Linked DNA regions of Homo sapiens: region 2 is linked to region 1. Evidence: fine-mapped expression QTL. A gene starts in region 1. The other region holds a variant in brackets. All regions are shown on one strand. Distances are from middle to middle.

Region 1 (16,981 bases):
ATCTTTATGTCTATTAGTACCTGTTGTTTAGCTCCCACTTATAAGCGAGAACATGTGGTATCTGATTTTCTGATACTGCATTAATCCATTTAGGATAATGGCTTCTAACTGCATCCATGTTGCTGCAAAGGAAATGATTTTGTTCTTTTTTTGGCTATATAGTATTCCATAGTGTATTTGTACCTTTTTTTTTTTCATCCAATTCACTGTTGATGGGCACCTAGGTTGATTCCATGTCTTTGCTATTGTGAATAGTGCTGCAATTAACATGCGGGTGCATGTGTCTTTCTGGTAGAATAATTTGTTTTTTGAGGATATATGCCCAGTAGTGGGATTGCTGGGTCAAGTGGTAGTTCTGTTTTAAGCTCTCTGAGAGACCTCCAAACTGCTTTCCACAGTGACTGAACTAATTTACATTCCCAACAGTGTATATATGCTTATAAGCATTCCCATTTCTCTGCAGCCTCACCCAAATATTTTTAAATTTTAATAATAGTTATTCTGACTTATATGAGATGGTATCTCGTGATTTTTGATTTGCCTTTCTCTGGTAATTAGTGATGTGGAGCATTTTTTCATGTTTTTTTTTTTTTTTTTGCTGCTTGTATGTCTTCTTTTTTTTAATTGTATGTCTTCTTTTGAGAACTGTCCATTCATGTCTTTCTTTTGCCTATTTTTAATGGGGTTATTGGTGTTTTACTTGTTCAATTGTTTAAGTTCCTTATAGATTCTAGATATTAGACCTCTGTCAGATGCACAGTTTGTGAATATTTTCTCCCACTCTGTAGGTTGTCTGTTTACTCTGTTGATAGTTTCTTTTGTTGTGCAAAAGCTACTCAGTTTAATTAGGTCTCACTTGCAATTTTTGCTTTTGTTGTCATTGCTTTTGAGGACTTAGTCATAAATTTTTCCCAAAGTCAATGTCCAGAATGGTGTTTCCTATGTTTTCTTCTAAGATTCTTATAGTTTGAAGTCTTACATTTAATTCTCTGATCCATCTTGAGTTAATTTTTCCATATCAAACAAGGTAGGGGTCCAGTTTCATTCTTCTGCATATGGATAGCCAGTTATCCCAGCACCATTTATTGAGTAGAGAGTCCTTTCCCCATTGCTGATTTTGGTTTACTTTGTTGAAGGTCAGCTGGCTATAGGAATGCAGCTTTATTTCTGGGTTCTTTCTTCTGTTCCATTGGTCTATGTGTCTGTTTTTGTACCAGTACCATGCTGTTTTGCTTACTGTAGCCTTACAATATAGTTTGAAGCCAGGTAATGTGATGCTTCTGGCTTTGTTCTTTTTTCTTGGGATTACTTTGCCTATTTGGGCTCTTTATTACTTTATTACTTCCATATGAATTTTAGAATAGTTTTTTCTGATTCTGTGAAAAATGCCATTGGTAGCTTCATAGAAATAGCATTGAATCTGTAGATTGCTTTGGGGAGTTTGACCATTTTATTATTCTTCCAATCCATGATCATGGAATGTTTTTCCATTTGTTTCTGTCATCTATGATTTATTTCAGCAGCGTTTTGTAGTTTTCTTTGTAGAGACCTTTTACTTCCTTGGTTAGAGGTGAAACCAAGGGGTGTGTGTGTATGTGTGTGTGTACTGTAAATTAGGCTATGTTCTTCATTTGGCTCTCAGCTTGAACATTATTGGTGTAAAGATATGGTACTGATTTTTGTACATTGATTTTGTATCCTGACACTTTACTGAAGTCATTTTTCAGTTCCAAAAGTCTTTGGCAGTCTTTAGGGATTCCTAGGAGAGATAGTTTGACTTCTTCTTTTCCTATTTGGATGCCTTTTCTTTCTTTCTCTTGCCTGATTGCTCTGGCTTGCACTTCCGGTACTGTGTTCAACAGGAGTGGGAAGAGTGGGCATCCTTGTCTTGTTCCAGTTCTCAAGGGGGATGCTTCCTAAAATGTCAATTTGAAAGCCTGATTTTTGTCTTTGACTTTGAACACTGAAAGACAATCCAGAGAACTAGCAAATTTACATTTAAAAACCTGCCTTTTAAGTTTTTAAAAACTATGAATTTAAAATTGCTTCTTTTAAAATTGGGTTTTAAATTTTTGATTCTACAAGAAAATTTTCATTCAACAAGCACTTAGGACCTGTTCTGAGTTTCTTCAGAGCCTTTCTTAAAAGATAAGGCACATATTGAAGGTAGAGTTATTAAGAATGAGAAGGTGGAGAAAAAATAAAAATAAATAAATAAACAATGCAGCTCTCATCCAAAATCCTAATGGCCCAAAAAAGCTACAAAAAAAGATGCCTGAGAGGCCACCCCTCCTTTCATATTAAAAAGCTATAGTGATTTGTAGAGTCAGAGCTTAACAAATCACCCTATTCTTCATCCTTTCCTTCACTAAGTTGTCAGACAGATGCAGAATAGAAATCAGCAATGTGAAATTGTGGTTTCTCAACTGAATGAGGAATTTTTCACCATGACTTTAATGTTCCTCTGTCATGGGCCCTAATGGGAAACTACCAAAAGTTATAAAATTCGATTATACTATGGGAATCCACAGAAGGGGGTAAAGAGAAAGCAAAGGCAAAAAAGAAATGTCTTTATTTTGAACCCTAATCATTTATTTAAAAGCTGTGTCTCATCTAAACACAGAACAATGGGATAGGGAAAGCTCCTGCTTCCGGATCCCTTTTTCAGAAGCAGCTTCCTAGCTTCTCTCTGGAAGAAAGGAAAGATGATAGGGCTAGCCCATAGCTTCTCAGCCTTGGCAACATTGACAATTTGCACTAGGTAATCTTTTGTTGTGAGGAGGTACATTATAGAATGTTAGTAGCATCCCTGGTCTCTACCCACTGGATGCCACCAGCGCCACTCCAGTCATGACAATCAAAATATCTCCAGACACTGTAAAATTGCCCCTGGTTGAGAAGCATTAGGCTAGTTCCCGCACAATTTTTTTTTTTAATTTTTCTTTAGTTCTTTAAGATCCTTTCAAGTGAGGGAATGGACTGCCACAGTCAGCAACAAGATGACTGGCAAACTCTTGTCTTCTGGAAACTTTTTCCTACTATGGCATATTTTATTATTTTGTCAGAAAATCCATTTCTATACCTCTCTTAATACTCCATTTAATATTTCTTAAAGATAATACATTTAAAGACGTAAAAGAAGATAAAAGAGAAACATCCTTAGAACTAGGCAACATAAGACCATTCTACATTAATTCATCTTACCTCCATAGGAAACTGTCATAAAAAGCACCCAAAATTTAAAATAGTAAAAGAGAGGTTAAAACCCACCTCAATACACAGATAGTAACAAACAACAAGGAATAAAACCCACTATTATTCTTCCATCTTAAAAAAGCAAATCTTTTTTCAACTCCACAACTCCCATCCCCAGCCATATCATTTCTTTGCTCCCTTTAAAGCAAAACCCTTCAAAACAGTTAACTGTGCTGTCTTTAATTTTCCTCCTCTTCATTCTCTCTTAACCCACTTCACTCAAAGCATCATTGCCACCACTTCACCTGGGCTGTCTTTGACTTTCATATTAATTAATTAAGGTCTTCAATGACTTTCATATTAATAAATACAATGGCCATTTCTCAACCCTGATCTTACCTGACCTATGGGCAGCGTTTGACACTGTTGATTATCATTTTCCTCCTTGATACACTTTCTTCCTTGGTTCCAAGACCCCACACCCACTTCTTAGTCACCAGTTGCTCTTTCTCAATCTCCTTTACTGACTCCTCCCCTTCTCACTTATCTCTTAATAATGGAGCAGCCCTGGGCTCAGATCATTTCTCTCAATCTATACTCAATTCCCAGTGAGTCTTCCAGTCTGTGATCTTAAATACCACCAATGTTCTGATGAATTCCAAATTCATATGATCAGCCCAAGCCTCTCTCCAAGACTCCAGACTTACATATCCAGCTTCCTACTTGTCATCTTCACTTGTATATCAAATAAATATTTCAAACCCAAATGTGTCCAAAACTAAACTTCTGATCCTTCCCCATAAACTTGCCCCTTCTACAATCTTCAAATAGTAGTTGATGCCAAGTCCACCTTCTCTTAGTTGTTTAGGTCAAAAACTGTGCATTAATCCATCACTCCTTTCTTTCTCTCACATGAAACATCCTGTTAGTTTTTAAAATTATATAAGTTCTACCTTAAAAATATATTCAGTATCCTTCCATTTCTCATGTTCACCACTGCTTCTACCCTGATAGATGCCACTATCATCTCTCAACTGAATTATTTTTTATAAGCAACTTTTTATTTTAAAATATTAATTGACAAATAAAGACTGTATGTATTCAAAGTGTACAACATGATGATTTGGTATATGTACACGTTGTATAATAAATAATTATTACAACCAAATTTAATAACACATCTGACATAGTTTGGGCTGTGTCCCCACCCAAATCTCATCTTGAATTGTAACTCCCATAATTCCCACATGTCATGGGAGGGACCCAGTGGGAGGTAATTGAATCATGGGGGTGGGTCTTTGCCATGCTGTTTTCATGATAGTAAGTCTCATGAGATCTGATGGTTTTATAAAGGGGAGTTCCCCTGTACATGCTATCTTGCATGCTGCCATGTAAGATGTGACTTTGTTCCTCATTCACCTTCTGCCATGATGGTGAGGCCTCACCAGCCATGTGGAACTGTGAGTCAATTAAACCTCTTTCCTTTATAAGTTACCCAATCTTGGGTATGTCTTCATTAGCAGCATGAAAACAAACTAATACAATATCCATCACTATCTATGCTGTATATTATGTCCCCAGAACTTGTCTTATAACTGTAAGTTTGTACTGTTTGACTAGTATCTCCTCACTTCTCCCACTCCCCCAGCCTTTGGCAACCACCATTCTACTCACTGCTTCTATGAGTTCAATAATTTTGGATTCCACATATAAGTGAGATCATACAGTATTTTTCTTTTTGTGCCTGGTTGATTTCACTTAGTATAAAGTCCTCCAGGTTTATCCATGTTGTTGTAAGTCAATAGCAAAAACAAAACAAAACAAAACAAAAAACAAAAAAAAACAAATAACCCAACTTAAAAATAGGCAAAGGAACTGAAAATATATTTTTCCAGAGAAAAAGATATGGAATCAACCTACGTGTCTATCCACAGATGAATGGATAAACAAAATGTGAGGGGTATGTGTGTGTGTGTGTGTGTGTTGTGTGTGTACACAATGGAGTATTATTCAGCCACCAGAAGAAGAAAATTTTTAAAGAGTTATTGCAAAAGATTCCTTACTAGTCTTCTAGTTTCTCATTACCCCTACATATTGGCTCGATATTCTCAACACAGTCGCCGTAGCAATTATTTTAAAATGTAAGTCAGATCATATTTTTCCTCTGTTCAAAATCTGAACTGGTGCCACATTTCCCCAGAGTAAAAACCAAAGTCTTAAAACTTTCTAAAAAGTTTAATATAATTTAGTCTTCCCTCATCTTTCTGACTTCATTTTCTATTTCTATCCCCCTTACTAATTCCACTTGGTCTTCTTTCTGTTAGTCAAACATACCAGGTATATTTTCACTGTAGGGTCTTTGCTCTGGCTTTTCCTTCCTTCTGGAAGTCTCCTCCCCTTCCACTGCTTCATGTCCTTCAATATTACCTCGTCAATTGGTCCTACCCTAACCACCCTATTAATACTTGCAGCTGGCCCACCATCATCCCATGATTAGCAATCCAAATCCCCCTTACTATGCTCATTTTTTTTTCTTTCTGTCATGGCACTTTTCAATTTTTAATATCAACAATGTATTCATGCTTATTATTCATTGTTTGTCTTCCCTATGTATAGTGTAAACCTCATGAAGAATTCATTTTGTTCCCTGATTTATCCCAAGCATGCTTAGAATAGTGCCCAGTACATAGTAAGCGATTGATTAACACTTATTGAATGAATAGAGAACTACATGAACGAATAAAATAGATTAATATCCTACTCTCAAGTAGAAGAGACGGCAACCTTCCTTTCTTAAATCCTCTTTCTCAGTCTCCTATTTATACCTCAAAGGACTAACTGGGCTGGGAGGAGGAAGGGATTCTTTGGTAAGGAGGAATAGATAAATACAGCTGGAAAGGTTTTTATTTGAATATTTTAGGGTTTCATTTCTTTGGGTTTTTTCTTTTTTAATTGGCAAGTAAAAATTTATATATTTATGGTGTGAAACCTGATGTTTTGATATATATACACATTGTGGAATGGCTAAATCAAGCTATTTAACATATTCATTACCTTACATTCTTATTTTTGATGGTGAGAATAAAAGATTGTAGATTTTAAGAAACTTTCTATCTTCTTAGTTTGGAGGACTGTGAAATCTTGTGCTGTTGGGAGATTTTAGGGCTTTTGTATTCTCTTTATCACTCTGATTTTTGGTTCGGTAGTGCTTCAATTTGGAAAGTATCTTCTAAACTAAATGAACTAGAGGAGCCAGGAATCAGTACTCAAAAAAGCAGAGGAGAAAGCAAGCTGCTACAAGAAACTCAAGGGAAACAAGAAAAGAGAACTTCAGGGTTTCAGCCCAATTCACTAAATAGGAAAGAGGGCTAAGATTCAAGATCAGTGTTGGAACTAGTAACAAATATTACATTTCATGATAGAGGTGCAAAAATAATGAACCACAGGTATATTCATGATCTAATGTTATGTAACCTATTACCCCCAAATTTTAGTGGTTTAAGACAAGAGTAAGCATTTATTATATCTTATGGTTTCTGTGATTCAGGAATCCAGAAGCAGCTTGATTGGATAGCTCTGGGTCGGGGCTATCATGAAATTCAGTCAGATGTTGGCTGAAGCTACAGTCATCTGAAGGCTTGACTTGGTTGCAGGGTCTGTTCCCAAGATAGATCACTCACATAACTAGCAAGTTGTTGCTATTAGCAGGAGGCCTCAGTTCTTCCCACACAGAGCTAAGATTCAAGACTTCTATGCAAGTCAAGAAATACACACACACACACACACACACACACACACACACACACATAGTGAAGTCTGAATATAAATTAGGAACTGAGCTCTTCTTCTCTCTCCATAGGTATATACATATACATACATATACCTATATACACATAGATATCCTGGAGAATTATTTAGAGAGAGCAATATTTCTACATCAGCTCCCTAGGCCAAGTAAGGTGACCCAATGGACTTCACTTTTCTAAAAAGTGCAGTTATACTTATGTATCTTCTCTTACTATTCATCAAAATACCGACAATATTTTGGGCTGAAATGTTAATAATATCTGTATGAACCTCTGCTTCAAAAAATAATCCAAGGGATCCTTGAGTATTTTTAAAACATGGCATCTGGTTTCCCCAAAATGAGCAACATAAGAAAGCAAAGAATACAAAAGAACAAGGCAGAAGCCATAGTGTATGTCTTTATGATGTAGTTTTCTGCTGTACAGTACTGATCACATGGTCAGCTGTGATTCATTTTGGAAGGGGAGTATGAACAGGTGTGAATACCAGTAGGTAAGGATTCCTAGAGATGTTATCAACATCTCAGCCCGAAATATTGTCGATATTTTGGTGAATATTAAGAGAAGATACATAAGTGTAACTGGACTTTTTAGAAAAGTGAAGTCCATTGGGTCACCTTACTTGGCCTAGGGAGCTGATGTAAAAATACTACTCTCTTTAAATAATCCCCCAGGATATCTATATATATACACACACACACACGGAGAGGAAGTGCTCAGTTCCTAATTTATATTCAGACTTCACTATATATATGTGTGTGTGTGTGTGTATTTCTTGAGTTGTATAGAATACGTACTTATGAATAACAAACTTGACCAATTTTCCTACAGACATAGACTTCTTGCATTTAGCAGTATCACTCACCTCTTACTCCATCATTTCTTCAATAACTCCATCAACACTGAACCTTCTAACTCTAACATGCTACGATTCACTACTGTGAAAAAAAAGCTGATGTCATAAACACATTGTGTTCCAGTATCACTAAGGGCCATACCCCATTCTTAGGTAATCCCTGAGGTCCTACTAGCCTTGCTAGCCTCAAAGGAGTCACTTGGAGTATAAAGAGGGGGAGGAGACTGAACAAAGTCCTGGAGCTATAGTATATTTTTTCATTGTTAATCCTTGGCAAAGAAGTAGGTAGTTTGGAGGTGGAAGTAGGCCATGATTACCTTTAAAATAATCTACTATTATTTGTGTCTTTCCTGAATATCATAGCACCTTCTTGTCACAAATGCTTAGGGGAAAGAAAATCATCCAATATACCCCATATCCCACTTACCAACATCTCTACAGTAAAATGAGACCCAAGAGCATGATTTCCTTAACTAGCTATCAAGCAACTACCTCCAACAAACAGCAGTTATCATTAATATGTTCATGCTATTTTCATTTGTGAGGTCTGTAATCCATCAGAACAACCTGACAGTGATTAAGTAAAATCAAAGAGACTTTGTAAACATCTGTGTGCTTTTATTGTTACAAATGCTTCATTATAAAAAGATCAGTCAAAAGCATAAAAGTACCCTGGTTTAAACTTTTTCTGTGTTTGAATGAGAATGTTTCTCTTGGAACATGCTCATATCAGGCTTCCACTTGGCAAAATCACGAATTGGCTGATGTTGTTTTAGAGGCTTTCTCATGTCCCCTTCCAAACATCACTCTTCTCCTTCTGTGGACCCCTTTCTGTTATCTAGGAGCCCCTCATGCTGCCTTCCACATTCTGCCTACTGCACAGTCATGTTCTGGACCCCTCAGAATCCCCCTCTACCATTACAATATGTTTTTCCTAAGACTTACTTGCATTGAAAGGCTTGCCAGGGAAGTGACTAATCTTATCATCTTGTACTAAATGTTAAATTAATCCTCATTCTCTCTAGAATTGTTTTCTAAGCAGGGATTCCTAGAGATGCTATCAATATCTCAGCCTGAAATTGCATAGGTATTCTGGTGAATAGCAAGAGAAAATAACGTGAGTATAACTGGACCTTTTAGAAAAGTGAAGTCTATTAGGTCACCTTAGTTGGCCTAGGGAGTTGATGTAGGAATGCTCCTCTCCCTGAAATAATCTTCCAGGAGAGGAATGTATCCCCAAATAGCAAGTGAATATCCAATGGCTTCTCATTGCACTTAAACTCTATATTCCTTTTTATGACCAAAAAGGCCTGGCTTCTCCCTAACTGTCTCTTCCTTACACATTACACCTCTTCCTTTTGTATGTGAATGTGCCAAGCTACCACCTCATTTCTACCTTAAGGCCTGAAGTGTTATGTTCCAGTTCTTGGCATGCAAATTACTCTTCATCACTTGTTTCCCGACACAAATGCCACCTTTCCAGACAATCTAAAGTAACCTCAAAATCATTTGCTCGCACATCACTTTGTTTTATTTCTCCTGGTATTAATCACTATGTGAAATTTTCTGGTTCATATTATTTGTCACCTGCTTCTTCCAGGCCTCCTCTTACTTCATTGTCTATCATGTTCATTACCGTATCCCTAGTGTTTTGCACAGAATCTGGTACATATTCAGTGCTCAATAAATATGTGCTAAATGAATAAATGAATAAATTAACCTAAACATAAGTTTTACACTTAAGTAATTGAGCAAGAAGTCTTTGTTGTACTAATATTGGAAAAGGCAGGGGTGGGGGTGGTGACGTGATTATAACCAATGTAACCAGCTTGCATTTATAAGACTTGTATTGATTATGAACTATAGCATTTTTTCGTTAAAAACATTATCAATATTGGATTGTAAAAGATTCCATTGGCCTTTCTGAAAGACTGTCCTTTTGATGAGATGTCACAAATGAATGCTAATGTCCCTTGAGAAATCCTGCCAACAGATCTTATTCTTCTATCAATGTTAAGAAACTGCATTTCTCTTTGGCCAATTTCTAGGCTTATGGATAGTCTCTCTTGCTAGGACTTCAGAAGCCAATGAGCAACTTGCCTGTCACAAGATCCGACGAATGATCTCTCCCTGCATGCGGTGTAGCTAAGCAGAGAAGCAGCTCTTGTAAGAGAATAACCAACACAGCATGGAATATTGCTAAATCTACAGTGTTTTATCCAGCAAAGTTCACCCCAGTAGCCTGCCCCTGCCAATAAAGCCTAGAAATTTTTCCTACCAGGCAGTCCCAGTTTAGTTGGTTGTAGCTTAGAAGCAGACATCTGAGAGCAGTTCAGCAAGCCTGCAGTCAGATGCTTTTGTAGAGCTCTCCTCTTAAAAGGCAAAATTGAGGCAAGTCAATAGATTACAACTTTCTGGGTTTGCTTCTGTCATCTATCAAATATCACAATTCATCCTGCTTCGCTAAAGTGAAACTCCAAGGATTTGTTTTTAAAGGTGTCCTTCTTTCTGTGAAATACTAAATGAACTTGTTTTAAAAAACAAGAACAACTCAACACAAGTTGATAGGAGCTAAGTAACATAACTTTTCCTTTAAGAAAAACATGTAGCATGAGAAAACCTTATTTTTAAAGTACTACATAAAATTTATTGAGACCACATGTCGTAAGAAAGCTTGATTATTAATCCTTCCAGAGAAACTGTTAACACTTAACTGCTATTCTTCAATTATTTCACTATCAAATTAAACTTATTCAAGAAAATACAAATGATTCCATACTGACCTACAAAACAAAAACTTTTTGGTGTTTTGAGGGGACGGAAGAATAAAGGGGAGGTGTCTTTTTCATCAAATCTCTTATATGAGCTCATTTCATCAATCTAATTGTATCTTTTTGTGCTTCTGCCAAGATTATTAATTTCAAGGGTAAGATTTTCTCTGGCTACCATGTACTGTAAAACTGTAAAATTTTTTCCACTCTTCATGGACCATTTACAATCTGCAAGGTTTGGGGTGGGAATGAAATGTATTTCTGCCAATGGATAGCCACATCAGCAGTGCTGAAAACCAATCCTTCTGTTTCACTCATCGTGCCATATGGCTCCATAAAAAAGGAGCGAACCAAAAGTGTAGCTCATACGCCTTGTCAATCTGGGCTTAGACTAATTATTTGATATTATGATAAAGAGAGGAATCTGTTTGTAGGTGAATATATTCTCTCTTCTTTCTTTACTCGTGTATCTCTATACCCATGCGCTAATTTATGGAGGGGGGGAATCAGAGGTTTAAAGCCCCTCTAATTTTACAGGAGCTATAATATTTTAAGAAAAGGCATTGCAATAAAATTGTCATACATAGGTTATAATTTTTAACAACAAAAAGTCCCAGGTGTTTTCATAGTAATGTCTTCTTAAGAATTAAGGATCATGATTTTAAACGCTTTCCAGTAAGTGCTTTGAGTACTCCGGAGCAATTAAAAAGCAAGCTGACGCGCCAAGATAAAGTTGTGTCCCCCTAGTGACCTCTAGAGCGGAGCTAAGCTCCCACAAGCCAGACTTGGGAGGAAAAGCAAAAAGCACGCCAAAGCCTGAGCGCTGCTGTAGTCCAAGCCAATGTATTCAGTAATACCCTTCACCCCTCAGTTCTCATCTGAGTTCCTGTCCTTTTTTATATAACCCCAAAGGCTCAGTAAGTCGCTGCCTCCCAGGTCATTGGGCCCATTGTGTTGAAATCCAACTTCGAACGACGCCCCTTCCTTGCCACCATCCTCAGGTCCAGTTCCCCCGCGCACAGCCTTCCTCACCGCGCATGGTGTCGAGCCCACTTCCACCTCTCTGCAGTGCTGCAGACAACCTCTAGGGCTCTGCGAGTCCCCCAGCGAGAGCTAGGGAGCCGACAAGCTGCGACCTCTGCGAGTCCGCGCTGCGGGAGCGGGTGGCTTGCACCTGCTCCCCGCGCGCCGGCTCTGCGACCCCTAGGCAAGACGCAGCCCAGGAGGCTCCCTCCCGAGTCGCGCCCCGGACCACGCCGCAATGCCTCGTCACCCCAGCAACAAGCTCTTCCTTGTCCTCCCCGCCATCGCTTCTCTCCGCGAACTTTCCAACTTTGGAAGCCCGGGTTCCAAAGGAGCAACAGGGAGACTGCTTAGCCGGAGCCACTGCCCGTCTCGACAGGTTGGGGAGCAGGAAGTAGCCTGCAGGGACTCGGCCGGTAGCAAGTCCCCTTGACCGCAGGGAAAAGGAGAGGCAGCCAGCTCCAATCTCCTCCTGAGGATGGAGGTTGGGGAAATGGATGCAGAACTTGTCACCCTAGGGACGAAGGGGCGGAGGGAGGGGGGATTGGAAGAAAAGAATAGAAGAGACCATGAAAAACTCTCTCTCTCTCTTACACACACACACACATACATACACACACACACACACACACACACACACACACACACACACACGAGAGGGAGAGAGAGAGAGATTCCGGAAAAGACAAGATGCTAGGAGCCCAGTCGCTTCTCTCCCCACTGCCCAGAGGCTAGGAGGTGCAACAGATAGATACCCAAGCTCGCCGAGTAGCAAAGGGGTGGGGTGAGAGAGGAGTCTCCAGGTTTCCCCAGGTTGCAAAAGGGGCACAAACTCCTGTCAGTGTCCCCGGAGGCCAGGGGAGGTGCAGCGGCGCCGCGGTTTCCCCCACCCCCTCCCCGGACACGGCAAACTCTTCCCCGGCAGGAGCCTTCCACTTGGCCGCGCCTGGATGTAAACAGGCCGGCCCGAGGGGCAGAGGGCGGGTGAGAGAGGGGAGGCGGCGAGGGGAGGAGGGAGCGGGACTCACCCTTGATGCTGGGGGGCTTTCTCTTCTTGGCCATCTTCTGTCCCCTTCCCTCCCCCGGACCCCCCACGCGCTTCCTCCGGCTGCCGCGCAGCTCCCAGGCGAGCCCTCGCCGCGGCTCTCAGCTCAGCGAGCTCTTTGTTGCTGTGATGGCATCTGCGAGCAGCAGCGGCGGCCGGGCTGCGCGCTCAGCTCGGCTCGGCTCGGCTGGGGCGGGCGCCGCCGCCCCTCTGCTCTCGGCCGCGCCGCTGGCCCCCCTCTTGCGCTGCTGTGGACGCGGTGGCTGCTGCGGCGGCGGCGGCTGCTGTGCTGCTCCTGCTGCTGGAGGGGGCAGCGCTGGGTCCCCTGAGCGCCCGCCCAGCGCTGACCTCCCCCTTCTCCACACCCTCCCTCCCCCACGCCCCCACCCCCGGTGTCCCGTCTGAGCCGCCAGCCCCCATCCAACCGGCTACCGCGCCGTCATCCAGCAGCCTCTACTGGAAAGACAACGGTGGCGGCGGCGGGGAGCTGCTGGGGGGCGCGGAGAGACCGCGGCCATCTGGGGCCGGGAAGGAGAAAGCCAGGCAGAGTCTGATGGAGTCTGCCTCCGGCCTGCCTTCCTCTGGGCCTTCGAAGCCCCCTCTCAAAAGGCCAGGACGCGCTGGGCCCAAGAAAGACACCCGTCTTCACAGGCCAACCAGAACTCTGGCCACCTGCGGGAGGACGGCACTGTCCCTTGCGACCCGGCCCAGGAGCCGTCCTCCTCCACAGCCTCCTCGAGGATAGCGAGCCCGAATTCCACGCGGGCGATGAGCCCCGAAGCGCGCGGTTGCCTCTGCCCCTCCCGAACCGAGAAGGAAAGAGGGGAGAGGGAAACAGGAGTCTGATGGAGGGGAGAGAAATGGAATTCCAGAGGCAGCCCACGGGCAGACACCTGCAAGAATGGCTGTGTTCTGGCCCTGAAGTTCTTAATAGTGAGGGCCCAGGATAGTTCCCTTGGGGCTGTGGGAAAAGAGGGAAGTTCACGCTCTCAGATGTTGGAGGAATTGGAAGCCGGAGGTGTGATTTCTTGGCCTCCAGCAGAAACTTGGTTACAGTGGCCACGTTCTTTCTCTCTCTGATTGGGGGTTTGCTTTGGAAAGTTCTCATGTTCCTGGAGGAGCTGTCCTCCCCTCGCGTGCTGATAAGGGATGAAAAGAAGTTCTGCTGGCGTCCCAGAACTGCAAGGGCAGGCGAAAGTTTAAGAATATAAAGGAGTATCGGACCTTAAAAAGAAACGCTTAAAGGGTAGGGTAGGGAGAGGTTACCAGGGTGTGCCACTGTGGGAAGAGGCTACAATATCGAATTTTTTTTATATGCTGCAGCTGAGATTGCCGCCGAAACGCACTTCCTAATTCGCAGTGACCTTCTTAACACTTCTCCTTTCCTCCTCCTAGGTTAGTACAGTTCCCAGCCCAATCTGATTGTCTAAACATTCAGTGAGTTAATTCAATATCTCCACCCAGAAGTTGCCCCAGTACTAGTGTGGTGCGGCAAAAAGAACAGTGAAGTCAAAAACCCCAATTGTGAATTCTGGCCCTGTAACTTCGTAGCTCTGAGAATTTGGACAAGTCACTCAATCTCTCTGCTCTTCTGTTTTCTGATATGTGCGATATCATCTCAAAAATTTCTTCCAGCTCCTGAGATATTAGTGACAAAATCATCACAAGTTATTTTTTCAGCCCTTCTAAATATAGCTTCATATAATGTAATATATTGAAGTAAATAATCTAGAAACATGTGAAATGACCAATTCCTCTCACAATGAAGATGTGCATCAGAAATAAAAAACAAAGAACATGTTTCTTTTAATAAGCAAAATAGACCCATTCTCAGACTTATGATCAGAAATAAGACTGACTCAAAGTTTTCCTCTTCCAAACAGCTGCCTCTTATTTAATTAAAAACTACTCTTCTAGGTCTTCAAATGTTTACTGTGTATAATATTAGACTTTGTAAATATTTCAGTCCATTTTATGTGCTCATATTTTATCACCAACTACTAATTATTGCCTATATTAGAATAATGTTTTTCTGTTTATTCATTACTTTCACATACTTTATTTCATTTAATCATGACCACACCCATGAGTTGAAAAGCAGGTCCTGTCTTCTAGGTTTTACAGACGGTGAAATGGGATTCGTGGAGGTATGATAACTTGCCCACAGCTTCGGTGTAACTCTTTTAACTCAATACCCAGCTCTCTCCACAACACTAGCTGCCTATGTGAAATAGAATATTTCTGCTTCAGACCAGGAATGGTTTCCTTTTTCTAATTTATTCCTTCCACAATGTCAGTACTATTCTCAACAGAGGAGACTCAAATTTAGTTGACTAGTTAGGACTATTTTTGGTACATGGATGTGATTAATATGCTTTTACACTGTTAGCACTTCAAAGTGTCCTTACATGCATTATCTCAATTAAGGTCATGACAATCACATAAGATCATCAAAAGAGGTTTATTCAGCCCTGCTGAACAGATGAGGAAACTGAGACCAAAAGACATTAAGGCCACAACTACCCAGGCCCTGGATTTCCAGGCCAAGTGTTTCCCCTATAGCCCACACTGTGTGTTTTTGTTCAAGGGTTGCAATTAGAATGACTGCAGGGAACAGTAAGACAGAATACATGACACCATCAGTATAAATATACAGTCATGCATTGCTTAACAACAGAAATACATTCTGAGAAATGTGTCTTTAGGTGATTTCATCCTTGTGCAAACACCATAAAGTATACTTAAACAAACATACATGGTATAGCCTACTATACACTTAGGCTATGTGGTATAATCCATTGCTCCTCAGCTACAAACCTGTGTAAGATGTTACTATACTGAATATTATAGGCAATTGTAAAACAATGCTAAGTATTTGTGTATCCAAACATATCCAAACATAGAAAAGGTGCCATAAAAGGCTGGGCATGGTGGCTCAGCCTGTAATCCTAGCACTTTGGGAGGCTGAGATGGGTGGACCACCTGTGGTCAGGAGTTCACGACCAGCCTGGCCAACATGGTGAAACCCCATCTCCACAAAAAATACAAAAATTAGCTGGGTGTGGTGGCAGGTACCTGTAATCCCAGTTACTTGGGAGGCTGAGACAGGAGAATCGCTTGAACCTGGGATGTGGAGGTTGCAGTGAGCCGAGACTGCACCATTGCACTCCAGTCTGGGCAACAAGAGCGAAACTCTGTCTCAAAAAAAAAGGGGGGGGGGAAGGAAAGAAGGAAGGAAGGAAGAAGGGGAGGGAGGAAGGGAGAGCGGGAAGGAGGCAGGGAGTGAGACAGGGAGTGAGACAGGGAGGATGGAAGGAAGGAAGGAAGGGAGAAGGAAGGAAGAAAGGGACGGAGAGCAGGAGGGAGGGAGGGAGGAAGGGAGGAAGGAACAAAGGAAGGAAGAAAGAAAAGGTGCTGTAAAAATGCAGTATTATGAATTTATGGGACCACTGTCATATATTCAGTCCATCATTGACTGAAATATCATTATGCAGTGCGTTGCTGTATAGATGTACTTGACCAAGGGAAGGGGACTGTAGAGAACTGAGAGGGTGTGTACCACTAGTCAGCTGCAGGATGCCTTGTGGGAATGAAAACGTCGGGGCTGTAAGAATTCTGATTTTTCAGGAGTCAGAAATCCAAATTTTCTGGTGAAATATTCTTTTTGATGTTGATTAATACATTAAAAAAACAAAAACACAAACACAAAAAAGGGTAGGCCTAACAGAACACATCTGCCAATAATATGTAGACTATGAGCTATGTGTCCATGTGTCTGTTTTTAAATTTCATCAATTGCTTTTAACCTCCAAACAGCAAGGGCTGAACCAAATCCTTGAGTATGGTTCTAATTCTGATGGCATCTAATGTCCCTAGAATTAGAGATTACCAAGGCCTTGGGTGCAATTAATTATGATTTATAAAAATGATTTGTGTGATAGGTGTTTCTAAATTTCTGGCTATTCTTTTTATTATTATTATACTTTAAGTTCTGGGATACATGTGCAGAATGTGCAGGTTTGTTACATAGGTATTCACGTGCCATGGTGGTTTGCTGCATCCATCAACCCATCATCTACATTAGGTATTTATCGTAATCCTATCCCTCCCCTAGTCCCCCACTCACTGACAGACCCCAGTGTGTGATGTTCCTCTCCCCGTGTCCGTGTGTTCTTATTGTTCAACTCCCACTTATGATTGACAACATGTGGTGTTTGGTTTTCTGCTCCTGTGTTAGTTTGCTGAGAATGATGGTTTCCAGCTTCATCCATGTCCCTCCAAAGGA
Region 2 (16,981 bases), 140 kb before region 1:
CAGGGAAGGACGCAGGCCTGGCTGACTTTGCCACCTGCTGACTGTAGAGCCCTATGGCACTGAGCAAACATAGGCCATAGCCAGGGAGTAGTTAAGCAGGCCTTGGGCAAGACCCAGTGCTGTGCTGGCTTCAGGTCTGACCCAGGACATTCCTAGCGGTAGTAGCCAAAGGGTGCTTATGTCACTCCACCCCCATCTCCAGTTGACTCAGAACAAAGATATAAACTCTGTTTGTTTGGGAGAAAGTAAGGGAAGAGAACAAGAGTCTGCCTGGTAATCCAAAGAATTCTCCCAGTGCTTGTCCAAGAACATCAAGGTGGCACCTCTACACGTCTGCAAGAACCACAGTGTTACTGGACTTTGGGTACCCCCTAAAACAAATACAGCTTAGATCACAACACTTACGTCTTTTAGAATACCTGGAAAGCCCTCCCAAGAAAGACTGGTACAAGAAAGCCCACACTGAGAAGACTAGAATAAATACTTAACTCTTCAATGCCCAGACACAGATGAACATCTGCAAGAATGAAGACAATCCATGAAAACACAACATCACCAAATGAACTAAATAACGCATCAGGGACCAGTCCTGGAGAAACAGATATGCGACCTTTCAGACAAAGAATTCAAAAGCTGTTTTGAGGAAATGCAATGAAATTCAAGATAACGCAGAGAAGGAATTCAAAATGCTATCAGAAAAAATTTAACAAAGAGATTGAAATAATTAAAAAGAATCAAGCAGAAATTCTGGAGCTGAAAAGTGCAATTGACATACTGAAGGATGCATCACAGTCTTTTAATAACAGAAATGATCAAGCAGAAGAATGAATTAGTGAGCTTGAAGACAGGCTATTTGAAAATACATAGAAGAGACAAAAGAAAACAGAATTTTTTTAAAAAAATGAAGCACACCTGCGATATCTAGAAAATAGCTTCAAGAGGGCAAATCTAATAGTTATTGGCTTTAAAGAGAAGGTAGAGAAAGGAATAGGAGTAGAAAGTTTATTCAAAGGGAAAATGACAGAGAACTTCCCAAACCTGGAGAAAGATATCAATATTCAAGGACAAGAAGGTTATAGAACATCAAGCAGATTTAACCCAAAGAAGTCTGTCTCAAGGCATTTAACAATCAAATTCCCAAAGATCAAGGATTAATAAAAAAAGATCCTGGCTGGGCACGGTGGCTCACGCCTGTAATCCCAGTACTTTGGAAGGCCGAGGCAGGCGGATCACAAGGTCAGGAGATCGAGACCATCTTGGCTAACACGGTGAAACCCCGTCTCTACTAAAAATACAAAAATTAGCTGGGCGCGGTGGCAGGCGCCTGTAGTCCCAGCTACTCGGGAGGCTGAGGCAGGAGAATGGCGTGAACCTGGGAGGCGGAGCTTGCAGTGAGCCGAGATTGTGCCACTGCACTCCAGCCTGGGCTAAAGAGCGGGACTCTGTCTCAAAAAAAAAAAAAAAAAAAAAAAGATCCTAAAAGCAACAACAGAAAAGAAACAAATAACGTACAATGGAGCTCCAATATGTCGGGCAGCAGATTTTTCAGTGGAAATCTTACAGGCCAGGAAAGAGTGCATGATATATTTAAAGCAATAAAGGAAAAAATTTTTACCCTAGAATAGTATATATCTGGTGAAAATATCCTTCAAACATAAAGGAGAAATAAAGACTTCCCCAGACAAACAAAAGCTGAGGGATTTCATCAATACTAGACTCATCCTGCAAGAAATGTTAAAGGGAGTACTTCACTTAGAAAGAAAGGAATGTTAATTAGTAATAAGAAATCATCTGAAGTTACAAAACTCACTGGTAATAGTAAGTACACAGAAAAACACAGAATATTACAACACTGTAACTGTGGTGTGTAAACTACTGTTATCCTAAGTAGAAAGCCTAAACAATGAACCAAACAAAAACAATAACAACTTTTTGAGACATAGCACAATAAGATATAAATAGAAACAAGAGGCCGGGCGCAGTGGCTCATGCCTGTAATCCCAGCACTTTGAGAGGCCAAGGCAGGAGGTTTATGAGGTCAGGAAATCAAGATCATCCTGGCTAACATGGTGAAATCCCATCTCTACTAAAAGCACAAAAAATTAGCTGGGCATGGTGGCATGCACCTGTAGTCCTAGCTACTCGGGAGGCTGAGGCAGGAGAATCACTTGAACCTGGAAGGTGGAGGTTGCAGTGAACCGAGATTGCACCACTGCACTCCAGCCTGGGCGACAGAGTGAGACTCTGTCTCAAAAAAAAAAAAAAAAAAAAAAGCAAGAAAGAAGAAAAAGGTAAAAAGCAGGAGGACAAAGCTAAGGCATAGAGTCTTTATTTGTTTTCTTTTTGCTTGTTTGTTTATGAAACAGTGTTGGTATCAGCTTAAAATATGAGTTATAAGATAGTATTTGCAAGCCTCATGGTAACCTCAAACCAGAAAACATACAATGGATACACAAAAAATAAGCAAGAAATTAAATCACATCACCAGAGAAAATCGCCTTCATTAAAAGGAAGGAAAGGGAAGAAAAGACCACAAAACAAGCAGAAAACATAGAACAAAATGACAGAAGTCCTTATTTATTAATAATAACGTTGAATGTAAATGGACTAAACTCTTCAGTCAAAATATACTGACTGAATGGATGGGAAAAAAAAGAAGTAATAACCTGTTGCCTACAAAAAATACACACATAAACTGAAAATAAAGGGATGGGAAAAGATATCCCATGCTATTGGAAACCAAAAGACAGCAGGAGTCACTATGCTTGTATCAGACAAAATAGATTTCAAGACAAAAACTATATGAAGAGACAAAGGTCTCTGTATAATGATAAAGGAGTCAATTCAGCTAGAGAATATAACAATTTTAAATATATATGCACCCAACACTGGAGCACCCAGATACATAAAGCAAATATTATTACAGCTAAAGAAAGAGAGAGGCCCCAGTACAATATACAATAATAGCTGGAAACTTTAACACCTCACTTTCAGCCTTGGACAGATATTCTAGACAGAAAATCAACAAAGAAACATCATACTTCATCTGCACTATAGACCAAATGGATCTAATAGATATTTACAGAACATTTTATCCAAGAGCTACAGAATACACATTTTTTGTTCATCAGCACATGGATCATTCTCAATGACAGACCTTATGTTAGGTCACAAAACTAGTCTTAAAATATTTTTAAATGAAATAATATCAGTCATCTTCTCTGTACACAATGGAATAAAACTAGAAATCAACAACAAGAAGAATCTTGGAAACTATACAAATGCATGGAAATTAAACAATATGCTCCTGGATATGGGTCAATGAAGACATTAAGAAGGAAATTGGGCCAATGAAGAAATTAAGAACACTGAAAATTTCTTGAAACGAATGATAATGGAAACAACATGCCAAAACCTATGGGATATAGCAAAAGCAGTACTCATACATACCTACCCAAAAAAAGAAGAAAAACTTCAAACAACCTAACAATGCATCTTAAAGAACTAGAAAGGCAAGAGCAAACCAAAACCAAAATTAGTAGACGAAAAGAAATAATAAAAATCAGAGCAGAAATAAAGGAAATTGAGATGAAGAAAACAATACAAAAGATCAATAAAACAAAAAGTTGGTTTTAAAAAACATAAACAAAATAGACAAACCTTTATCCAGACTAAGAAAAAAAGAGAGAAGACCCAAATAAATAAAATCAGAAATGAAAAAGGAGATATTACAACTGATACTGAAGAAATTCAAAAGATCCTTAGTGGCTACTATGAGCAACTATATGCCAATAAATTAAAAAATCTAGAAGAAATGGACAAACTCCTAGACACATGCAAACTACCAAGATTGAACCAGGAAAAAATCCAAAACCTGAATAGACCAATAACAAGTAACAAGATTGAAGCTGTTATAAAGTCTTCCAGTAAAGAAAAGACCAGCACCCAATGGCTTCACTGCTGAATTCTACAAACATTCAAAGAAAAGCTAATATCGATTTTCCTCAAACTATTCCAAAATTAGAGGATGAGAGCATACTTCCAAACTCATTCTACGAGGCCAGTATTACTCTTATATCCAAATCAGAAAAAGAGACATCAAAAAAAGGAAACTACATGCCAATATCTCTGATGAATATTGACACAAATATCTTCAACAAAATACTAGCAAACCAAATTCAACAATACATTTAAAAGGCCATTTGTCATGACCAAATGGGATTTATCCCTGAGATGCAAGGATGGTTCAACATACGTAAGCCAATCCATGTGATATATCATATTAACAGAATGAAGGACAAAACCCATATGATCATTTCAATTGATGCTGAAAAAGCATTTGATAAATTTCAACATCCTTCATGATAAAAATCCTCAAACAACTAGAAATAGAAAGAACACACTGGCCGGGTGTGGTGGCTCATGCCTGTAATCCCAGCACTTTGGCAGGCCGAGGTGGGCGGATCACGAGGTCAGGAGTTTGAGACCAGCCTGGCCAACATAGTGAAACCCTGTCTCTACTAAAAATACAAAAAGTTAGCTGGGCGTGGTGGCAGGTGCCTGTAATCCCAGCTACTTGGGGGGCCAAAGCAGGAGAATTGCTTGAACCTGGAAGGTGGAGGTGGCAGTGAGCCGAGATTGTGCCACTGCACTCCAGCCTGGGTGACAGTTCAAGATGCCATCTTAAAAAAAAAAAAAAAAAAAAAAAGAAGGAACATACCTCAATAGAATAAAAGCCATATATAACAGATTCATAGCTATTATCATACTGAATGGGGAAAAACTGAAAGCCTTTCCTCTAAGATCTGGAACATGCCAAGGATACCCACTTTCACCACTGTTATTCAACATAGTACTGAAATTCCTAGTTAGAGCAATGAGACAAAGAAATAAAGAGCATCCAAATTGGAAAGGAAGAAGTCAAATTGTCCTATTTGCAGATGATATGATTTTGTATTTGGAAAAACCTACACTGCACAAAAAACTATTAGAATTGATCAACAAATTCAGTAAAGTTGCAAGATACAAAATCAACGTACGAAAATCGGTAACATTTCTATATGCCAATAATAAACAATCTGAAAAAAGAAATTTAAAAAGTAATCCCATGTACAATAGCCACAAATTAAACTAAATACCTAGGAATGAACTAAAGAACTGAAAGACCTCTATAATGAAAACTATGAAACACTGATGAAAGAAATTTAAGAGGACACCAAGAAATAGATAAATATTCCAGGTTCATATACTGAAAGAATCAATGTTGTTAAAATGTCCATACTACCCAAAGCAAGCTACAGATTCAATTCAATCACTATCAAAATACCAATGATATTCTCCACAGAAATAGAAAAAACAATCCTAAAATTTATATGGAACCACAGAGGACCCAGAATAACCAAAGCTATCCCAAGCAAAAAGAACAAAATTGAAGAAATCAAATTACCTAATTGCAAATTATACTATGGAGCTATAGAAACCAAAAACAGCTTGATAGTGACATAGAAACAGACACATAGACCAATGGAACAGAATAGAGAACACAGAAATAAATCTACACACCTACAGTGAACTCATTTTCAATAAAGGTGCCAAGAACATACACTGAGGAAAAGACAGTCTCTTCGATAAATGATGCTGGGAAAACAGGTTATCTATATGCAGAAGAACGAAAGTAGATGCCTATCTCTCGCCATATACAAAAACTAAATCAAAATGGATTGAAGGTGTAAATCTAAGACTTCAATCTATGAAATTACTAAAAGAAAACTTCAGGGAAACTCTCCAGGACATTGTTCTGGGCAAGAATTTCTTGAGTAATACCCCACAAGTGCAGGCAATCAAAGCAAAAATGGACAAATGAGATAACATTAAGTTAAAAAGTTCTGCACAACAAAGAAACAATCAACAAAGTGAAGAGACAACTCACAAAATGGGAGAAAATATTTGCAAACA[A/AC]CCATACGACAAGAGATTCATAACCAGAATACATAAGGAACTCAACTCTATAGGAAAAAAATCTAATAATCCAATCAAAAGATGAACAAAAGATTTGAATAGACATTTCTCAAAAAAAAGGCATACAAAAGGCATATAACAAGGTTTTCAACACCATTGATTATCAGAGGAATGCAAGTCAAACTACAATAAGATATCATCTCATCCCGGTTAAAATGGCTTATGTCCAAAAGACAGGCAAAAACAAATGCTGGAAAGGAGAGGAGAAAAGGGAACTTTCATACACTGTTGGTGGGAATGTAAATCAGTGCAACTACTATGGAGAACAGTTTTGAGATTCCTCAAAAAATTAAAACTAGAGATACTATATGATCCAGGAATCCTACTGCTGGGTATACACCCAAAAGAAAAAAGATCAGTGTATCAAAGAGATATCTGCATTCCCATGTTTGTTGTAGCGCTCTTCACGATAGCCAAAATTTGGAAGCAACCTAAGTGTTCATCAACAAATGAGTAAATAAAGAAAACATCATATTATACACCATGTAGTACTATTCAGCCATAGAAAAGAACTAGAGCCTGTCATATGCAACAACATGGATGAAATTGGAGGTCATTATGCTAAGTGAAATAAGCCAGGCACAGAAAGACAAACATTCCATGTTCTCACTTATTTGTGGAAACTAAAAATCAAAATAATTGAACTCATGTTGATAGAGAGGAGAAGGATGGTTACCACAGGCTGGGAAAGGCAGCAATGGGGTTTGGGGGATGTGGGGATGGTTAATGGGTACAAAAAAAATAGAAAGAATGAATTAGACTTAGTATTTGACAGCACAACAGGGTGACTATAGTCAATGATAATTTAATTGTACATGTAAAAATAACAAGAAGAGCATAATTTGATTATTAGTGACCCAAGAGATAAATGTTTGAGGGGATGGATACACCCATTTTACATGATGTGATTATTATACATTGCATACCTGCATCAAAATATCTCATGTACCTCATAAATATATACACCTGCTATGTACCCACAAAAATTAAAATGAAAAATTAAAAATGTATATATATTGCATGCCAGGTATGCAAGTTTTAATTTTTTAGTAGCTGCATTAAAAAGGTAAAAAGAAACAGATGAAATTAATTTTAATAATGCCTTTTACTCAACCCAATATATTCAGATTATCATTTCAACATGTAATCAATATAAATTCATTTATTTGAGATAAAAATGAGATATTTTGAATCCTTTTTGTTTTAACCAAGTCTTTGAAGGCTGGTCTGTATTTTACATTTACAGCTCATCTCAATTCAGACTAGCCACATTTCAGGTGCTCAATAGCTTCATGTGAAAAGAGGCTACCATCTTGGACAGCACAGTTGAAGACTAACTGATTGATAAAAGAATGTTGAAAATACTTATGAAAGGTAAATGATGACATAATAAGCGTGAGCTGTAACACCATGTGCCACTTAAGAAGACAATAATACCATTTATATAATTTAGATGCAGATTTTACTAGCATTCCCAGAAAAAAAAAAGTGTAGTGAATTTCTTCTTCTTTCCTTTTGGCAATATCATTCTGAAACCAGTGTGTGTAGAACTTAGGGGAAAAAATCACTAAAATGGTACGGCGTATAATGGAATAAAAATATTATGCCATTGGGATAAGGTGTCCTGGCTTTGAGACAAAAAGTAGAGTCAGACTGAGCACAGTGGCTTATGCCTGTAATTCCAGCCTTCTGGGAGGTGAGGCAGAAGGATTGCTTGAGACCAACGGGAGACATAGCAAGACGCTGTCTGAACGATAAGTAAATATTATCTGGGCATGGTGGTGTATGCCTGTAGTCCTAGCTACTCAGGAAGCTGAGGTGGGAGGATCATTTAAGCCCAGGAATTCGAGGTTACAGTGAGCTATAATCACACCACTGCACTCCAGCCTGGGCGACAGAGAGAGACCTTGTGAAGAAAAAAAAAAAAAAAAAAAAAAAAGTAGAGTCAACGTATCCTGACTCCCATAATAAAAAATTGCAGTTCAAAGGGAGGAGGGCTTCACGGATGACTTGCATATTTCCTAAGCTCCTAAAACATTCTTTAGAGGCAAGTATTTATCACCAACCTTTCTATTTGACAGCATATTAAAGATATTCCTACAGTTTTGGTGTTTCTGTAAGAGCAACTAAGGAATAACCCTGGAAAGATAAGAGCTTTTCATAACAACCAAGCTTTCAAACCAATCAATCCTCAAGACAATACTTTTTAAAAAAATTGAATGAAGTCTACACGTGAAGCTAAAAGCTTTGGTTTTCAAGAACCCTAGGGCTATACTTTAAAACAGCAGTAAAAAACATACTCAAAGATGGAAGAGAATGAGCACTCAAGAGAAACCAAGTGAATGTACAGTTGTGCCCTACCTTATAAATGTTCCTCACGTACTGCCACAGCTAAAATTAGGTCCCCACGTTTGAAATAATCCTTCCACAAAAGGTAGTTTATGTTGTATGAGCTCTTCTGTAACATAACGGTAGAATTTATAGTCTAGTGAGGACTACTACAGCCAAGTAAATAGGCATCTAAATTATTATATAGTGTGAAGACTACCAAGATAGGGAAGGTATAATGGAAGCACGCAGGAGGGGCCATAACCCAGACGTGAGGGGGAGGGAATGTTACTGGCGTCAGCTTCCTGAAGAAAGTGAAGTCTAAGCTAAACCTACACCATGAGTAGGTGTTAGCCTAGTGAAAGGAATTTGAAGCAGAGGAAATGGAATGTCCAAGGCCAGAGAGAAGCGTGACCTGGCATGGCATGTCGAAAAACTGAGATAAGTATGGTGGGAGGGTTGGGAGGGGCTGTCCAGGTGGAGAGATGTGGGTAAGGAGTTAAATAAGAGTGCCATCCTGCCATCCCTTTTAAGCTACGAGTATGGACTTGTTCTCTAGAACAATGGATAGCTACCAGAGGCATCTGAGTAACTGTTTCTGCTTTGACTCCCTACCTTTGGTGGGTTTCTAACTCCTCAATTACATGAAAATTCTAAAACTAAAGCATTTTGCAAGTATTTTGGGGGTAAATGAAAAAGCTAACAAAACACAACTATCTTCAAATATAATGCAGAGAGGGAAAAATAGAGGGCTCAGACAAATTTATTCCCTGGACTTGGAAAGTTAGTATTTTCTCAGTGATTCGTTGAAGATCTATTTTTTAACCTTTTTTTTACGGCCTGGCTGTGTTTCTTTGGAGTTTCATAAAATTAATGGCTTGTAACATCTCATTACTGGGCAAGTCTAAGGGCACCTTTCTCATCATTGCTTGAATTTCTGCCTTGAAGGGAATCCCCAGGATGGGAATTTTCCTGCGAGATGGATTGCTGTTTCATTTGAAGCCTTCCTTTCAACAAGGAAAAATTTCAAATCCCTCTCCATCTAATACATAAGCTTGTGTGCATGAAAACACACACACACACACACACACACACGTACACACACACACACCCATGAATTAAATCAGAACCAGGACAAAAGAAAAGGAGGGAGGAATGACATAAGCAGCTTCCAAAGCACTGCCTCTACCTGATCATAGCCTTTTATCTCAATCATGGCAGGGGGAAAGCCCATGCCCTCAATCAAGCAAAAGATCTCAAGAGAATGCGGGCAGAGCTCATGTCTCTTCTCCAAATATGATTTTTTTTCTATTTTTCCTTTGCTAATGTGTTCAAAGTATTTCCTCTCTCTGGCATTCCACTGCCCTCTATTTCTTAATTTTCTTCTACTGACTCCAGACTGGCAGCTTTTTCTTAGCTCAGTCTCTAAACCCTTTGTGTAGTTTCTTATGGGCATTTACTCTTATTCTACCTATGCCTAGAGAAGATCAAATAAGCTAGTTTGTATCCTCTGTCCAAAACTTCTGCACATTCCTAAGGACCATGAACAAGGAACCACTAAGGCTTTTTTTTCTCTGATCTATATTTATAATGCCACTTCCTGGTTATTTTTATTTTCCAGACCCATAATCTGTTTTGTGGCAAGCCATGGAAGGAACTCTCAGGTTTCTCATGTCTCTCTAAGCAGGATTTGGCAATACTAGATATTGTATTTTAGTAGGATTTTGGCTAGTGTTCAGGACAATAGGCAGAGCATATCCCCCTGGGTTTAAAAAAAAAAAAAAAACTACTGGGGCCTGGGTGTTTATTCTTCTTCTCTCAAGCCACTGGGAATAGAGCTTTCAAACAAGACCAAAGAAAAATATGAGAATAAAAAGGCTTCATGGAAAAAATAAGGTATCTTTAGGGTGAGTCATGCAGGGGAAAGTGTGCCGAGCACCTGTCAGTAGTACCTTTCTGATTCAGTCATGAGTATCAACTTAATTCTTTCTTTTGAGAAGAAAGCCAAGGTATTTTGAAATGCATAGCTGTTTAGATGTGGTACCCATTCTGCAAAGTTAATAACATCTTTGAGGGTTCATTAATCTCAACAAGCCTGAAAAAAAATAAATTTTCATGTTCTTGCTCTCCTACTATCATTCTTACAGTTCTTTTACATAAATAATTGGTTATGGTTCAAATTAAAATAACTTTGACAATTATTAAGCAAGCTAGGAGTGTTTTGAGCTTGCGCTGTGAAGTGAGATATCAGCGCCCCAGGGTGCCTCAAGACCATGTGTTATCTTATGATAACATTCAACTCACTTTTTTCTAGGCTTATAAAATACAAGTTTTTCATTTAGCAGCTGAAATGACTGTGCTCTCTTTAGATAATATTCCCTCACTGAAAGGTTAGTCTCAATAGAATTTTTATGATTAAAGCACAAATGTGGTATTTATGAGGACTAGGATTTGTGTTTCTGGCAACCCGAGTGTCCTCAAAAGCATTGCAGCCCTGTCCTCATTTCACAAGTCCTATAATGTTTTGCAGACCACCGTGTCCTCTATACTTAAATCCTTCTCATAGACTAACAAGTGGCAAGCCTTCACTCTTACACATATTATAATCTTTGTGGGATGCACTAAAGACTTCTGTGTGATGAATTGTCATCTCCCTCAACCTCAAAGGTAACTGGCTATAAAACTGTTTTATGTTGCTAGTATTCCTAGTCCTCGTGTAAAAATACTAGCTGTAATTCAGTGTTGGCAATGTGGTATTATTCATAAAGCATTCAGACTGTACAGTTTTAGAATGTCATCGGAACTTCCTGATTGAATTACAATCTAGCATTCAGCTAAGTGTCCTTTTTTATGCATGAAAATTACTCACAAGCATTTCCCAACATCTCCAGGGCCTACATGGGAGTTCCAGAGGGAGCAACACTTTGCATAATCCTTCAAAAATATCTTCAGGGACATTCAAGAACCAAGAATTGGATAAAGCTTTTAAAATCAATGCTGGTTATAAAAGAAAAAAAACATAGCTTACAAGATGAAAATGTGTTGATGATTTTCCAAAGAGGAAGAGGAAGCCTCTGAAAATATGACTCAACTTCACTTGCTGGTTTCCAAAGCAAATTCTAAGTTGATGACATGGATTTAGCCCAACTGTGTCAGACAATTTTTGGTGAGGTAGGCGATGGGGTTTTGTTTGTTTCTTGCAGAATTTGGGGGTACTTGATTTGCGCTGTTCTTTGCTAAAAACACTTATCTGCCCCACTCAAAATCCATTCACACATAGATGTTTTCTTATTCACATTTCTATGTTTAATTTCAAGAGATAATACTTTTACAGATGACTTTCCCTATTGTATCAGCTTCTCTAATTCTAGCACTATAATCAGCATCTTATTTTACAAGTGCTTTTTCTTGACTCTAGCCTTATTTTTTATGTTCTTTCCATAATTTTATAAATTCCCTTTCTTTATAAATAAGAAAATAATTTTTTCCTCTGTTGTGGCCTTTTCCAACTTTGTCCAATAGCAAATTTGTCCAGCCTAGCTGGTGGCAGTATATTTAGTACTAAGTAATATAATGAATCTTCTAAATATGAGCTCTGTGGCTCTGTAGTGTGGTGGTGTCATAGAATATCAGAGATATTTTAGTCCTGATTCAATACCTGCACATACATGACATATAGACATAACATTGTTTTATGCCTGTAGACTTGCTTTGTTTCTTCAAAAATATATGTTAATAAAAATGTGAGCAGATTTGCTGCTTCATTGAATATTTAACACTGCTTCATTAAATTAGTTCACTGTCAATAACAGATTTCATTCTAAGATTCAAGGCAGGAGATGGGGAATGGCAACAATCTGAAAAATAAAAAAAGAAGGAACTTCTAAGAATATTTAGATTTCTTTGTCATACAGTCTGCACCTTCTGTCAATTCCTAGGCACTTACTGTCGATAGTAAATTTGTCCAGTCTAAACTTACTAGATTCATTCTGTTTTATTATTAAATAAAGTCATTTAACACTGCATACTAAAGCTAAATTAAACATGTTCCCAGGATAATTATCTCTATATATACTTACATTCATTCACGAGAACACTACTTTCAATCTTATAATACTAATGCTTTCAAATTCACACCTCAATGCCAATATTCTCCTCTGACTTTAACATTTTCTGGATTGATAATCAATATAGTGGAGTTATTGTCATTCATAAAATTAAGATATAGGTCATTAGCTAATCTTGATAGTAAGACATTTACGTGTAATGTTACACAAGGATGTTTTGTTTTGTTATTGCCAATTAGTAGTCCAAGTTAATTGGAAGTTTTCTTTGTGGGGCATAGAATTATGTGGCTCAAACACATTTTCAAAATGACAATACAAGACAGAGTCATAATTAGTAAAATTTTATACCCCAAATTTCTCTTATTTCAATACATATTTAATTATGATGTGAGTGGGCTTCCTTTAAAAACAATCCAGAAAATTCTACTTAGGCTAACTTTATAATAAACAATATAACTGCTCTTTTCATATAATTTGTTTCAAAAAGCATATGTTAGTAACTGGAATTTTCAAGTAATTCTGAATTCTTCCAAAGCACAGGTCTACTAAAATGGCCCTACTAAGACCTCTGGTAAGAGAGCAGCAACAATTCAACTGCCTGAATGAAATGCCAAATGGCATAAAGTAAAATCGTTGTGTGTCGCCCCTGAGTTATTCACACATCAGCAGGAAGTGAAATGAGGAGCCTGAATTCCATGTCCTTTACCACTTGCCCTCTGTGGCATTTATGAAAGAACCCCTCATAAGGAAAAATAACATCAATAATGATGATCTTACGCCTCATCTCTTAAATATTCACAGCTCAGCAAAAGCCTAATAAGAAGAGTGGCCTTTATGTCCTCTTTCTAGATGTCCTTCCAATATCATTTGAGGAAACCTTGTAAAAGACAAATAACAATCATGATAGAAAATTTATTTCGAAAGAAGGAAAGGAATGATGAGGAAGGTATTTGATAGAAATTTCAGTAGATGAGCTTTGATATTACCTCTTGTTTTGCTACTCCTCTTGGGAAGAACCAACCCTCAATTAGCGATTGAGTTTAAACTCCTCTGAACAAGTATTATTTCTCTGATTACTCAGAAAGATCTATTTTCTTCCGATATTTTATTATTACTTGTCCAGCCAGAATTCCAAACCAACATTCCTTCTAAAATATCTCCTTGCTCCTCTTTTCATTCTGCCAGTTTCACCAGCTTACTTTCATTCCCATTTCCCACTATTTTAACTGCCACTCTAATATATATGTCTCACTTATAACCCTCAGCCATCTCCAAACCTTTCAGAGAATACCCATAATGGAAACATTACAGGATTAGGAATTAGGGCTCAGAATATCTCAGCTCTAATCAGAGAAGCAATATAGTATATGTGTTTAAGAGTGAGGGCTAAAGAGATTAAATAAATAGATCCTACTCCCAGCTTTACCACTTACTAATTATGTGATGGTGGTGAACTTATTTAACCTCCCTGGGCCAATTTCTTCATCTGTAAAATGGAGATAAAAACAACATATATCTCAGTGGCTGGGTGTGGTGGTTCATGCCTGTAATCCCAGCACTTCGGGAAGCCGAGGTGGGCGGATCATGAGGTCAGGAGTTAAAGACCAGCCTGACCAATATGGTGAAGCTCTGTCTCTACTAAAAATACAAAAATTAGCTGGGAATGGTGGTGCGCACCTGTAATCCCAACTACTCAGGAGGCTGAGGCATGAGAATCGCTTGAACCCGGGAGGCAGAGGTTGCAGTGAGCTGAGATCAGGCCACTGCACTCCAGCCTGGGAGACAGAAAGAGATTCTGTATCAAAAAAAAAAGTATATATATATATATAGAAAGTTATCAAGATTAACAAGGTAGAGCATTTAGAATTCTACCTACTAACTGGGGAGCAGCCAAGATGGTAGCATAGGAACAGCTCTGGTCTACAGCTCCCAGCGTGAGTGACGCAGAAGATGGGTGATTTCTGCATTTCTATCTGAGGTACCGGGTTCATCTCACTAGGGAGTGCCAGACAGTGGGCGCAGGACAGTGGGTGCAGCGCACCGTGCACGAGCCGAAGCAGGGCGAGGCATTGCCTCACTCGGGAAGTGCAAGGGGTCAGGGAGTTCTCTTTCCTAGTCAAAGAAAGGGGTGACAGACGGCACCTGGAAAATCAGGTCACTCCCACCTGAATACTGCGCTTTTCCGACAGGCTTAAAAAACAGTGCACCAGGAGATTATATCCCACACCTGGCTCGGAGGGTCCTACGCCCACGGAGTCTCGCTGATTGCTAGCACAGCAGTCTGAGATCAAACTGCAAGGCGGCAGCAAGGCTGCGGGAGGGGCGCCCGCCATTACCCAGGCTTGCTTAGGTAGACAAAGCAGCAGGGAAGCTCGAACTGGGTGGAGCCCACCACAGCTCAAGGAGGCCTGCCTGCCTCTGTAGGCTCCACCTCTGGGGGCAGGGCACAGACAAACAAAAAGACAGCAGTAACCTCTGCAGACTTAAATGTTCCTGTCTGACAGCTTTGAAGAGAGCAGTGCTTCTCCCAGCACACAGCTGGAGATCTGAGAATGGGCAGACTGTCTCCTCAAGTGGGTCCCTGACCCCTGACCCCTGAGCAGCCTAACTGGGAGGCACCCCCCAGCAGGGGCAGACTGACACCTCACAGGACCCGGTACTCCTCTGAGACAAAACTTCCAGAGAAACGATCAGACAGCAGCGTTCGCGGTTCATGAAAATCTGCTGTTCTGCAGCCACCGCTGCTGGTACCCAGGCAAACAGGGTCTGGAGTGGACCCCTAGCAAACTCCAACAGGCCTGCAGCTGAGGGTCCTGTCTGTTAGAAGGAAAACTAACAAACAGAAAGGACATCCACGCCAAAAACCCATCTGTACATTACCATCATCAAAGACTAAAAGTAGATAAAACCACAAAGACGGGGGAAAAAACAGAGCAGAAAAACTGGAAACTCTAAGAAGCAGAGCGCCTCTCCTCCTCCAAAGGAACGCAGTTCCTCACCAGCAACGGAACAAAGCTGTACGGAGAATGACTTTGACGAGTTGAGAGAAGGCTTCAGATGATCAAACTACTCCGAGTTACAGGAGTAAATTCAAACCAAAGGCAAAGAAGTTAAAACCTTTGAAAAAAATTTAGATGAATGCATAACTAGAATAACCAATACAGAGAAGTGCTTAAAGGAGCTGATGGAGCTGAAAACCAAGGCTCGAGAACTACGTGAAGAATGCAGAAGCCTCAGGAGCCGATGTGATCAACTGGAAGAAAGGGTATCAGTGATGGAAGATGAAAAGAATGAAATGAAACGAGAAGGGAAGTTTAGAGAAAAGAGAATAAAAAGAAACGAACAAAGCCTCCAAGAAATATGGGACTATGTGAAAAGACCAAATCTACGTCTGACTGGTGTACCTGAAAGTGACGGGGAGAATGGAACCAAGTTGGAAAACACTCTGCAGGATATTATCCAGGAGAACTTCCCCAATCTAGCAAGGCAGGCCAACATTCAGATTCAGGAAATACAGAGAACGCCACAAAGATACTCCTCGAGAACAGCAACTCCAAGACACATAATTGTCAGATTCACCAAAGTTGAAATGAAGGAAAAAATGTTAAGGGCAGCCAGAGAGAAAGGTCGGGTTACCCACAAAGGGAAGCCCATCAGACTAACAGCGGATCTCCCGGCAGAAACTCTACAAGCCAGAAGAGAGTATGGGCCAATATTCAACATTCTTAAAGAAAAGAATTGTCAACCCAGAATTTCATATCCAGCCAAACTAAGCTTCATAAGTGAAGGAGAAATAAAATCCTTTACAGACAAGCAAATGCTGAGAGATTTTGTCACCACCAGGCCTGCCCTAAAAGAGCTCCTGAAGGAAGCACTAAACATGGAAAGGAACAACCAGTACCAGCCACTGCAAAATCATGCCAAATTGTAAAGACCATCGAGGCTAGGAAGAAACTGCATGAACTAACGAGCAAAATAACCAGCTAACATCATAATGACAGGATCAAATTCACAATAACAATATTAACTTTAAATGTAAATGGACTAAATGCTCCAATGGAAAGACACAGACTGGCAAATTGGATAAAGAGTCAAGACCCATCAGTGTGCTGTATTCAGGAAACCCATCTCACATGCAGAGACACACATAGGCTCAAAATAAAAGGATGGAGGAAGATCTACCAAGCAAATGGAAAACAAAAAAAGGCAGGGGTTGCAATCCTAGTCTCTGATAAAACAGACTTCAAACCAACAAAGATCAAAAGAGACAAAGAAGGCCATTACATAATGGTAAAGGGATCAATTCAACAAGAAGAGCTAACTATCCTAAATATATATGCACCCAATACAGGAGCCCCCAGATTCATAAAGCAAGTCCTAAGTGACCTACAAAGAGATTTAGACTCCCACACAATAATAATGGAGACTTTAACACCCCACTGTCAACATTAGACAGATCAATGAGACAGAAAGTTAACAAGGATACCCAGGAATTGAACTCAGCTCTGCACCAAGAGGACCTAATAGACATCTACAGAACTCTCCACCCCAAATCAACAGAATATACATTT

Direction of the effects. Alleles are on the strand shown, and positions count from the first base shown. SD is a standard deviation of normalised expression in the study named.
As copies of A replace AC in region 2, the expression in T cells of the gene that starts at base 7,941 in region 1 goes up (large effect, 1.1 SD a copy in GENCORD).

What was found.
Region 2: its variant is fine-mapped to the expression of SLC44A5 in T cells (GENCORD, PIP 0.95).

Annotation. Positions count from the first base shown.
Region 1 is chr1:75,603,174-75,620,154 of GRCh38, forward strand. SLC44A5 (solute carrier family 44 member 5) reads right to left here and starts at 7,941. Exons shown (of 24, transcript NM_001130058.2): 1 at 7,867-7,941. RefSeq lists a silencer at 12,770-12,989.
Region 2 is chr1:75,461,971-75,478,951 of GRCh38, forward strand. The region is part of intron 2 of SLC44A5 (solute carrier family 44 member 5); the gene reads right to left. Among named protein-coding and RNA genes, the nearest start is that of SLC44A5, 140 kb to the right of the region's middle. RefSeq lists an enhancer at 14,640-15,140. The variant A/AC (reference allele first, on the strand shown) is at 5,956.